Linked DNA regions of Homo sapiens. The protein of the gene in region 2 purifies or fractionates together with the protein of the main gene of each other region. This does not show direct contact. Each region holds a gene or a part of one and is shown on either strand. Other genes may lie near its edges.

What was found.
Region 1: the proteins of PRKX (region 2) and LCP1 purify together in Homo sapiens (affinity purification with mass spectrometry; one large-scale study listed by BioGRID and IntAct). This does not show direct contact.
Region 3: the proteins of PRKX (region 2) and DMBT1 purify together in Homo sapiens (affinity purification with mass spectrometry; one large-scale study listed by BioGRID and IntAct). This does not show direct contact.

The regions. Positions count from the first base shown.
Region 1 is NC_000013.11:46,151,079-46,154,732, reverse strand, and holds part of LCP1 (plastin-2), read left to right. Parts: intron 1-1,787; coding exon 1,788-1,953; intron 1,954-3,654.
Region 2 is NC_000023.11:3,707,061-3,710,714, forward strand, and holds part of PRKX (cAMP-dependent protein kinase catalytic subunit PRKX), read right to left. Parts: intron 1-3,654. UniProt on the Homo sapiens protein: Serine/threonine protein kinase regulated by and mediating cAMP signaling in cells. Acts through phosphorylation of downstream targets that may include CREB, SMAD6 and PKD1 and has multiple functions in cellular differentiation and epithelial morphogenesis.
Region 3 is NC_000010.11:122,640,693-122,644,329, reverse strand, and holds the end of DMBT1 (scavenger receptor cysteine-rich domain-containing protein DMBT1 isoform e precursor), read right to left. Parts: intron 1,209-3,637; coding exon 932-1,208; 3' UTR 594-931; downstream 1-593.

The DNA.
Region 1 (3,654 bases), on a different chromosome or scaffold from region 2:
CTTTTTCAGGGGCTCAGACATCATTCGCAAAACCCAGGCTTTGGGCTGGTGACTTGTCATACTTCAGGGATAAAGGGATACATTTCTGAGCAGCAAAGAAGGGAGACTGGTGGAGTGGTAGCAGCTGGGGCTTTGTATGTTTGTTTTGGCCACTTAGGAATAAAATTCACTTTGGCTAAAGTTTTAACTCAAGCTTTCCTTAGCAATTTATCTTTGATTTGATGCCAAATAAACAGCATTTTAGATGAAAACATAAGCCTTTCTAAGAAGCGAGGGGGTGAAAAACGGGAAGTACTCTGGCAGCCTTCATAGTAATTTTGGCCACAGCCACGAGTATAATAAATATAACTTGCTTTTATTCCATCAATTTGTTGATTAACTGGAATAGTAACCAGCAGTAAGTGTATTTCTGTGTTGTGTTCCAATATTTTAACATTATCATAATTCTTTTGCTAAGAAACCATATCTAACTTCTTAAATCATGAACGATACATTATCTCCTGTGTGGATTTAAGCAACCTTGTGTACTTTAAAAATGGAAATGGTAACCAAATTGAGAACAATGATTAAACACATATGAATGCACTTAATGTTAAATTTACTCATAATCTTGACCATATATAGAAACAGTATTTTTCACTCATCATTTAAGCACTAGAACAAGGACCCACTTTTCTTCTGATAGTTCTTTTCCTAATTCACTGGCGGCCTTTGCTTTGTTTTTAATTTGCCAATTAAAACAATTTCTATACATCTCTGACATTGATATCTCTTCCTTTTTAAACTCAAGAATAGTACATACAGAGTCTGGACTGAAAACTCCCTTGACTCTATCTCGACTATATGTGAGTTACATTACCTGCATTGTTGTTACTCATAAGAACATAGAATCTATGAGTATGTGTGTGTATACTCAGGTTCCCTAGTTATTACAGATACTCAACAAATCAACCTAGCAAAAACCATTCCATCTTTTCCAGGAATTTTAATCGTATCTATTTTTCATTTTCGTTTTCTTTTTTTTTTTTTTTGAGATGGAGTTTCACTCTTGTCGCCCAGGCTGGAGTGTGATGGCATGATCTCAGCTCACCGCAACCTCTGCCTCCTGGGTTCAAGAGATTCTCCTGCCTCAGCCTCCCGAGTGGCTGGGATTACAGGCACCTGCCACCATGCCCAGCTAATTTTTGTATTTTTAGTAGAGATGGGGTTTCACCATGTTGGTCAGGCTGGTCTCAAACTCCTGACCTTAGGTGATCCACCCGCCTTGACCTCTCAAAGTGCCGGGATTATGGGCATGAGCCACCGTGCCAGCCTTTTCATTTTCTTAACACCCAATCTTCAAGTCAAAAAGCTCTTCTGCTACTCTCTTTTATGATCTTGATTTACATCAACAATTGTCTTATTCATGATGGCCAGTGACAGGACAATGACTTTCTCAAAGGTGTCCCTTTATTTTTGGCCAATAGAGATGTTTTGTGTGTCAGCTTCATCACAGAGCAAGATGGAAAAATATAGGCCTCATCAGTCTCATGCCAACCAGAATGGGCCTTCAACTTATGGTGCTGGTTTGATTGAATGGACCACTGCATGAGTGGTCGGTGTCTGGGTTACTGGATTTTCTCTTCTGGTTATGAGTCACTGTTTTTTTCTCAATGTTAAAATGAGTGAAGACCATGACTCTAAACCTGTGACCTTCGCAGAAGGAAAACATTGTTACTGTTGCCATCGGTATTATTTGGCATCTACAAAGTCATAGAACAAAAACTTGCATACATTTTCTCCCTCAGGAAAATCTGAACTTGGCTCTGAACTCTGCCTCAGCCATCGGGTGCCATGTGGTCAACATAGGGGCTGAGGACCTGAAGGAGGGGAAGCCTTATCTGGTCCTGGGACTTCTGTGGCAAGTCATCAAGATTGGGTTGTTTGCTGACATTGAACTCAGCAGAAATGAAGGTAAGAGCAAGTCCCAAAGGTCATTTATGACACAGCTTTCTAATAACTTACGCGTTGGGGACTGTAGGAGGAAGATGTCAGAAATTCTCAAGTTTTGAAAACTACACAGTTATATTGATTCCATGGTATTCATGTCACAGATTCTATACACACAGACCAGACGTTTTTTAATGATAGAGCAAAAGCTTTTTAAGACCATAGACTAACAATAATGTTTGTTTGGAGCATAGGGCTCAGTCTTGAATGTTTGGCACTCTAACCTCAAGAGGTTTTTTCAGAGCTCACTTTGCCTTTAGATATTTGTAACAAATAAGAGGACTTTTAACTTGCACTTTGCGAAGTAAGCAACTCACATTCATATACTATAGTGAAGGTACCAGATTAGGAGGAACTTGGTCTATTTCTTATCAAAACTATAGAGGAAGGTATAGGTCAAAGGGTTCAAGGTTGCAATTATATGGGATGAATAAGTGGAGATCTAAACAGCACGAGGGCTATAGTTAATAATATTGTGCTGTATACTGGTAATTTGCCAAGAAAGTAGATTTCAGGCACTCTTCCTACAAAAAAGAAAGAAAGAAAGAGATAGAGAGAGAAATGAAGAAAGAAAGAAAGAAAAAGAAAGGTAACGATATGAGATGTGAGTATGTTAATTTGCTTGACCAACAGTAACCACCTTACTGTGTATGTGTCTACCAAGATAAGTATACCAAAACATCACGTTACACACCTTAAATCTATGCAGGCTAGAATAAACATTTTTAAAGACCGTAGAAAATTCCATTTAGGGTTTCAGAGTTCTCAACTAAATATGTAGCTGTCAATCTTATTGCGTCTTCTCTCACCATCTTATCTGTATGTAAACAGTGACAGCCCCCTGGCTTAGACAGAGGTAGCCCACCTTGATAAGTATCATGCAAAACACGATGTTATCTTTTAGTTATCAGGTACAAATCCTACCAATATGAAATCTGTAGTCAAGTTCTAATCTTTAGTTATACATACTTTTTTATTTATATGTCCAAATCACAATAACCAATGAAAAATCCTGAAATATTATTTAAAAACCAATGTATTAAACATAATATAAAGAAGGCGGGGGAGAGGAAATAGGGATCTTAGAACCTGTGAGAAAGAATATTGATCTTCAAATAATGACCTCAGCTAAATTTAAACCTTCTAGCTGAGCAAAAAAATACTTACTCATCTGGGAAAACGTAGAGGAGAGTTGATTACATTGTTGAGTTGCTATAATTAGGCAGGTAAGCACTTGAAATATAAAACACCTATGGGAATAGACAAGAGAACATTGTTATTATTACAAAATTGATCTCTTAAAAGCAAAAATGTTGTCATATTGTGAAATGTGGTTTGACAGACCCAGCAAAACATCCGAGCCAGTAGCCTTGGTTATTTTTATGGCTCTGCCCAAATGTTCTTAAACATAGCGTTGAGATTCACTGTGCTTTGTTTTCTCCATCTGGAAAATGGAGATAATAAATAAGCTCACAATGGCTTACGCCTCTTTTTAGGGAATAATAATAAAATATTTAATCCATGGGAAAGGCTACAAGAACCTTTACCCCAAAGAGGTAACGTTGTTATCTTTAGCTTTTTAGCAGAGCTTAATGAAAGTTATAACCAACCCCCCTCCCCCAACATCGCTGCATTTATTTTTCTGTGGTTTTTGTGCTTCTTCAG
Region 2 (3,654 bases):
AGGCTGCAGTGAGCTGTTGATTGCACCACGGCACCCCAGCCTGGGCGACAGAGTAAGACCCTGTCTCTAAACAAAAAAGCAAAAAGAAAATAACACTAATGTTGTCATGGTGGAGCTTCTGCCCATAGAGAAACTAATGTACATATTGTACCCGTCCAGTACTTGGCATCAGTGAGTGTCATAAAGAACAACTGCCGATAATGCCATCATCCATTCATTTATTTATTCACACACAGAGTGACCAGCTTGTCCCTGTCTCTGCCTGCGACTCTCCCAGCTAGCACTGAAGGTTTCCCACCTCAGGAAACCCCAGGCACATGAGGAGGGTTGATTTCTCTATTCATGCGGTGGATGGTCTTGGGCACACACTAAGTGCCGGGTCTGTTCTTTGGATGTGGGAGATGAAAGTGGCTCCAACACACAGAGGTCCCTGCACACTTGGCATTTATGTGCCAGCAGCGGAGGCAGGCAGAATGCTTGAGCCCAGGGGTTCAAGTCTAGCCTGGGCAACACAGCGAGACCCTGTCTCTTTTATTTAAAATAAGTCCTGCACATGTATCTTAATTTAACTTAAATTTAATTTAACATGTATTTTAACTTAAATTAAAAAAATAAAATGAAATAAACAATGAAGAGGAGAAACCGGCAGGACTTCTATCCTTGGAAATGTTCTCTGATGTGTAATATTTGATCTCATCTCTTGGCATTTGCGTGATGCACTTAAAGGAAACTGTCATTCACACATGCATGAGCCTGTCTCACACGGAGCACCCACATAAGGTAAATAAGATCAAAGGGCTGAGCTCCACTTTCTGTGTATTGTTAGGCTACAAACAACACTCCTAATTGCTATGTCAACACTGCCCACAAGGCTGCTGATTTATGCACACAGTAGAATCTCACCAGTTCAGATGCCATTCGTCCCGGCAGCATGCTGTGTGACAGACAGGGTGGGGATGCCGTGGACTCAATGTCTGTGTCCCCCTAAAATTCCTGTGTTGAAATCCTCACCTGCAAGGTAATGGTGTCAGGAGGTGAGGCCCTAGGGAGGTGATGAGGTCGTGAGGTTGGAGCCTCATGAATGGGATCACTGCCCTTATAAAGGGGCCCCAGAGAGCTCCCTCACCCCTTCCACCATGTGAGGACACAGCGAGAAGGCACCATCTATGAACCAGGAAGCAGGTCCCCACCAGACACCAAATCTGCCATGCCTTCATCTTGGACCTCCAGCCTCTGAACTGTGAATAAATGTCTGTGGTTTATAAGCCACCCAGTCGGTGGTGTTTTGCTACAACTGCCTGAACCGACTAACTTGAGGCATTAATAAGAACCCAGCAACAAGGAGAGGAAAGGAAATTCTGGCCAATTCAGGAGAACCAAGGACAAGAGAAAACCTACCAGTATAAGCACTTTAGATCTGAGAACCATGTATCATTAATTATGAAGATCTCCTAGCTCTTAAGAAAATAAAATATTTTCAGATTGTATAGTGTGTGAAAGTTTAAAAAAAAAAAAAGTGTCTGGCCAGGCACGGTGGCTCACACCTGCAATCCCACCTCTTTGGGAGGCCAAGGCGGGCGGATCGCCTGAGGTCAGGAGTTTGAGACCAGCCTAATCAACATGGAGAAACCCCATCTCTACTAAAAATATAAAATTAGCCAGGCATGGTGGCACATGCCTGTAATCCCAGCTCCTCGGGAGGCTGAGGCAGGAGAATCGCTTGAACCCGGGAAGCAGAGGTTGTGGTCAATACACTCCAGGCTGGGCAACAAGAGTGAAACTCTGTCTCAAAAAAAAAAAAAAAGTGTCGAGCAAGACCGAGGGGTGTTCTGTGGTGAGGGAATTCATCCTGCACCATGGTTTGGAGGGTGGTAGCTGCCAAATCCACACACTGGGTAAAACTGCACAGAACTCTACACACACACTCGCAAACACAAATGAGCACCTTTTGAAAACTAATAAAGCCTGAACAAGCCGGGCACGATGGCTCATGCCTGTATATAGTCCCAGCACTTTGGGAGGCCAAGGCAGGAGGATTGCTTGAGCCCAGGAGTTCAAGGCTGGAGTGAGCCGAGATCGCACCACTGCACTCCAGACTGGGCAACAGAGTGAGACCCTGTCTCAAAAAAAAAAAAAAAAAAAAGCTGAACGAGGTATGTGTTCTCTTTAATAAGGATATACCAACATCGATGACATGGTTCTGATATTGTCCCACGGATATGAAGACGTCACCATGGGGAAGTTGGCTGAAGGGTCCATGAGACTCCAGGTACTGTTTTTGAAATCCCCTGTGAGTCTGTATTTCAAAAAATATATATTTTTAATAGGGGTCTAGGAACTTTGGAGTCTTCCTCATCGTCATCGTGTAGGACAGGTTCCGTCATTATTTCCCTCTGTAGATGAGTAAATGCAGAACTAGGCTGAGAAAAGGAAAATGAAATGTGGACCCAAGGCCTGGCCACTGGTTTACCTGTTGAATTACCTCCTTCCTGACAGGTTAACACTTGGGGTACCCATGACAAGCAAGCACTGGGTTGTAGATGCCAAATGATTCCATAAGGACACTTCTGGGAAAAAACCCAAGTATTTTTTATCTGATATATAGAGAAAGGAATTCTCAAGTGGTCATTTTAAGTAGGAAATTGGTAAAATAAGGCTGGTAGATGGCTGCACAGATTCATCCTCTTCTCTCTACATAGGGTGAGTTTTTCATTTCCATAATATCATTTTCTTATTTTATTTTTTATAGAGAGGATCTCGCTCTATCACCCAGGCTGGAGTACGGTGGCGCGATTGTGGTTGACTGCAGCCTTGACCTCCTGGGCTCAAGTGATCCTCTTGCCTCAGCTTCCCAGGTAACTCAGGTATGCGCCACCATGCCCAGCTAACTATTACTACTATTTTTTTTAAGAGATGAGGGTCTCACTATATTGCCCAGGCTGGTCTGGAACTCCCGGCCTCAAGTCATCCTCCCACCGCGACCTCCCAAATAGCTGGGACTACAGGCACGCACCACTGTACCTGGCCCTGAAATTTCTTTTTTTAAAGCACAATTGTTCTCCATCATAGGAACAAGCATGGCTTGGTTATATGAACAAGAAATTTGAAGAACCAGATTGAAAACCATTTTTTCTCTGAGGACTAGTATGACTGTTCTGATCCAAAGTTCCTAAAACGAAATCGGCCTTTAGACCAGACGTACTCCAGAATCCCTTCACGCATAAAAAAGAAAAAAAGAATCCATTATCAGACTTTTCACAACTGCAAACTGCACTCTTTCTTCCTAACTACCTGACCTTGAGGAAAACTGGTCAATCTAGAACGCTGACAAGTTTCTTTTTCTCTCTGTCGCCCAGGCTGGAGCGCAGTGGTGTGATCTTGGCTTACTGCAACCTCTGCCTCCTGGGTGCAAGCAATTCCTCTGCCTCAGCCTCCTGAGAAGCTGGGATTACAGGCGCCCGCCACCACGCCCGGCTAATTTTTGTATTTTCTCAGTAGAGACAGGGTTTCACCATGTTGGCCAGGCTGGTCTGGAACTCCTGAGCACAAGTGATCCGCCTGCCTCGGCCTCCCAAAGTGCTGGGACTACAGGTATGAGCCACCACGCCCAGCCTGTGATTGGCTTTAAGTCATAGAAAATAGGATTGCTCAGCT
Region 3 (3,637 bases), on a different chromosome or scaffold from region 2:
GGCTTGTGACAACTACTGCTGCCCCACCCACCCCCAACACCATGGCCACCACATCTGTTGACCTAGCCCCAGACTGGGCCAGAAATCCTGGGCATCACTCTGCAAACATTCATTCCCTCGTCCATGCCCACAACACAGCAGCACAGCCGCACAGCAACACAGCAGCACAGCCGCACAGCCGCACAGCCGCACAGCCGCACAGCATCACAGCATGACAGCAGCACAGCCGCACAGCATCACAGCAGCACAGCATGACAGCAGCACAGCAGCGCAGCATCACAGCCGCACAGCAACACAGCAGCACAGCCGCACAGCAACACAGCAGCACAGCAGCAGATGCACTCCCTGTTCTGGAGAAGAAAAGTGACATAGCTTGTGCCCAGTAGAGCCTGCCAGCGATCAGGACAAATCCATGCAGCTGGCGTCCCCATGGCCCTGTCTAGACCCTGATGTCAACACGTCTGCTGTTATAGTTATTATCGTTGTGAGGAATACTGTCATCATTGGTGTTGTTAACATGGGTGACAACAACAGGAGTAACAAAAACTACCATTTACCAAGCACTCAATGACTTGCACCAGGAACAGGCTGAGGCAGTTTCACCAAAATTCCTTTATGTAAGTAACCCTCTCAACAGTGCTAAGAAGTAAGTATTGACATTTTCATTTTGCAGATGAGAAGCATGGATTCTGGGACGTCAGGTCTATGGGCCATCCAGGTCAGAACTCTCTTGACCTCACCCTGCAACGGGTCCTCCAAGGACCATGAGCCTTGGGGGAGGCGGGAACCAGGTCTGATTCAACTCCGTATGACCAGGTGCAGCACAATGTAGGGCTCAATCTGAGTTGGAATATGACACCAAGAGGAACATCCCAAGTCCCCGAGTCAGGGGTCTGCGCCCCGGTGGACAGTGGGGTCTGAGAGCGACCACCTACCGAGGCTCCTCTTCTCGGCGTGGGGGGGTCTGCAGCTGGATGGGACCCAGGACGACGTCCACCTTTTCCTGGTAGGAGCCCACATCCCTCTTCGACCTCAACACACAGCCTCGGTAGCAGCGGGAAGAGGGGTCATACGCTCTGCACACCACCATTTTACAACGCAGGTACACGGAGGGGAAGCGGTTCAGGAAGTGGAAGGCCCTGAACCGGAAGCGGGCAATGCGAAGAGATGGCGAGGAGTAGGGTCCGTAGGTGTCATCCCTCACGCATCTGGAAGAGAACAGTAGCCCCTTAGCTCTCACCAAGGCCCGATTCTTCCTTCATGACTCAGTTGTACCAGGTGAGGAACTCCACAGCCTGTCCTCACTGCCCCTGCCTCCTGCACACCTCACCTTCCTTCTGTCAGAACGTGTGGATCAGACACTCACTGAGGGGCCTGCAGAGAAATCCTGGCAGCTCCGGTACCTCACCGCCATCCTTAGGCAGCAAAGCCTGTGAGAGCTTTCCCGATAGACAAGCAGGTCCCATACTGCACAGTGGGTTGAGGCCTAATCCCACAATGACCACATGCTCCATGCACCCAGGTAAACCAGATGAGTCAGGGAAGTAGCTGGAGTTTGGAGCCCAGGAGCGGGACCCAGAGACAGGGCAGAAAAGTAAATGACCTTCCCTTCTCTCACCTGGTGTCAGGGCCAGGCAAGGTCTCATTCGGCTGCACTCTGAGTACAGTGCCCTGACCCTCCCTCTCCCAGGGCCTCTCTTTCCTGACCCTCCTCAGCCTGCCCTGAGCCCCATGCAGCTGTACGTTCCACACTGGCCTGCGAACCCTCCAGGAGCCCCTATACCGATATAAACCCCCTCCTCATTCCCTGGGGCACCTCCTCTCAGCAGGGGTCAGAGGGAAAATAACCTAAGGATATGCTTACAGGAATTTTCCTAAGATGGAAGAAGCAGCTCACACTAACCCAGTTATTATAGATTGGTGGGATTTTGAAGGGCATGGCAAAGAGAAAAGCCAGGAAAACTGGCCCACTGGCCTAGGATGGGCATTTCTCGTGGGTGGTGGATGTGGTCTCCAGGGCAGTCTGGCTCAGCCTGGGAACCTGGCCAGGATCTGCTCCCCTCCTTCTGTCTTCTAGAGCCTCCTTCCTTCCTCCATAGGCAACCCAGATTCTCTCAAATACCAAGTTTTCTTTTTTGTTTTTGTTTTTTTTTTCACAGTAGCTCCCTTAGTGGCAAAGGAGGAAGCAAAAATAGCCAGAGGCTTGTTCAGAGGTGGGACACTTGGGAAAAAGGTCAGGGTCACTTAGAAGCCCCTGGGCAGTCATTGCATTTGCCGTAAAACCCTGCCATTCAGGGCTCCACGCAGACCAGAATGCCACAGCGAAGCCACAGCCATGACTCCACCTCAGAATCACTCAAGATTTTTTAAACGTAACATGCCCAAGCCCCACCAGGCCAAACAGAGAATGTATGGGTAGGGCCTGGGCAGGGTGTGTTTGGAGCCCCAGGTCATTCTAATGGACTTCCAGGTGGATGATCTTGTTGATGGCCAGGTGTAGCCAATAAGTCCCTGTGCTCCAGGTATAGCCAGGGTACATCTACCCCTGCACACACATCCCCGTCTTCCCAGCAAATTGCATTGTCATATAGAAATGGCAGGATTTGACCAGAAAGAATCCTTTGGCAAGGAAGAACTAAGGTCACCCACTCATTTTCATTAATGTCAATCAATTCACACAAATTCAAAAGTCACCTTATGACTATTTGTACAACGGGAATCTGGTTAAGCTTTCTCCCCTCCTCTCAGCCACCAAGGGGGCTGCTGTGAATTGAGCAAGCTGCATAGACTGTAAACAAGGTGAGCCTCAACACCTACCTACTGAACTGACATATGTTCACACTGTGCCTGGAAAGAGGTGCTACGTTTAGCATATCAAGAGGGTGTCGAATTGAATCTGCCCACCTCTAATTCCTAGTAGAACTCTTTATCCTATTGGTATAAATTCTCTTGGAAGGCAATGGCTACTGAAGTGTCCAGGTCTATATTGTAAGCCAAGAAGTGTGGTACACATCTATCAACAGAGACTTCAGAGGGGGCTGGAGTTGCACATCATGGTGTCATCATGAGTGCAGAAGAGTCAAACCCCACTTCACCCACATGCAGTCATCCAGGGAAGCTGGGCTATGGTAGAGCAGCCCAGCCTGCACACCCTCTGGCCCCAGCCTGACATCTCTGGCCTGACCTCTGCACCTCCTGAGCTTGACTGGAACCCGTGGACTCCCAGAGCTTCTATTCCCAGGCTGAAGGAGGGCAGCAGGGCTCCTGCCATCTTCAGTGCACATTCCTGGTGGACCACCTGCTGCACACTCTCTGTGCTCAGTGCCACATCCACTCTCTCTCATCCCATCCTCCCAACAGCCTTACAATGTGCGTGTCATTATCCCCACTTGACAGGCGAGCAACTGGTCCATAGAGGTGCTTTCACTGGCCCAGAATCATGCAACTGGCACGTGGCAGAGCTGGCATTTCAACCTTGGTCTGCTCCAAATCAATGCTTTTCCCACTATACGCAGGTCTTTTTAACCGTATGGCTGGAGTTCAGTCACCTAGAGTCTGATCACGGTTTACAGCTAACCTGCTGAGTGAACACTGCTGAGCTGTTCTATTCTCCAGAAACCCATCTCCCCAGATGTTA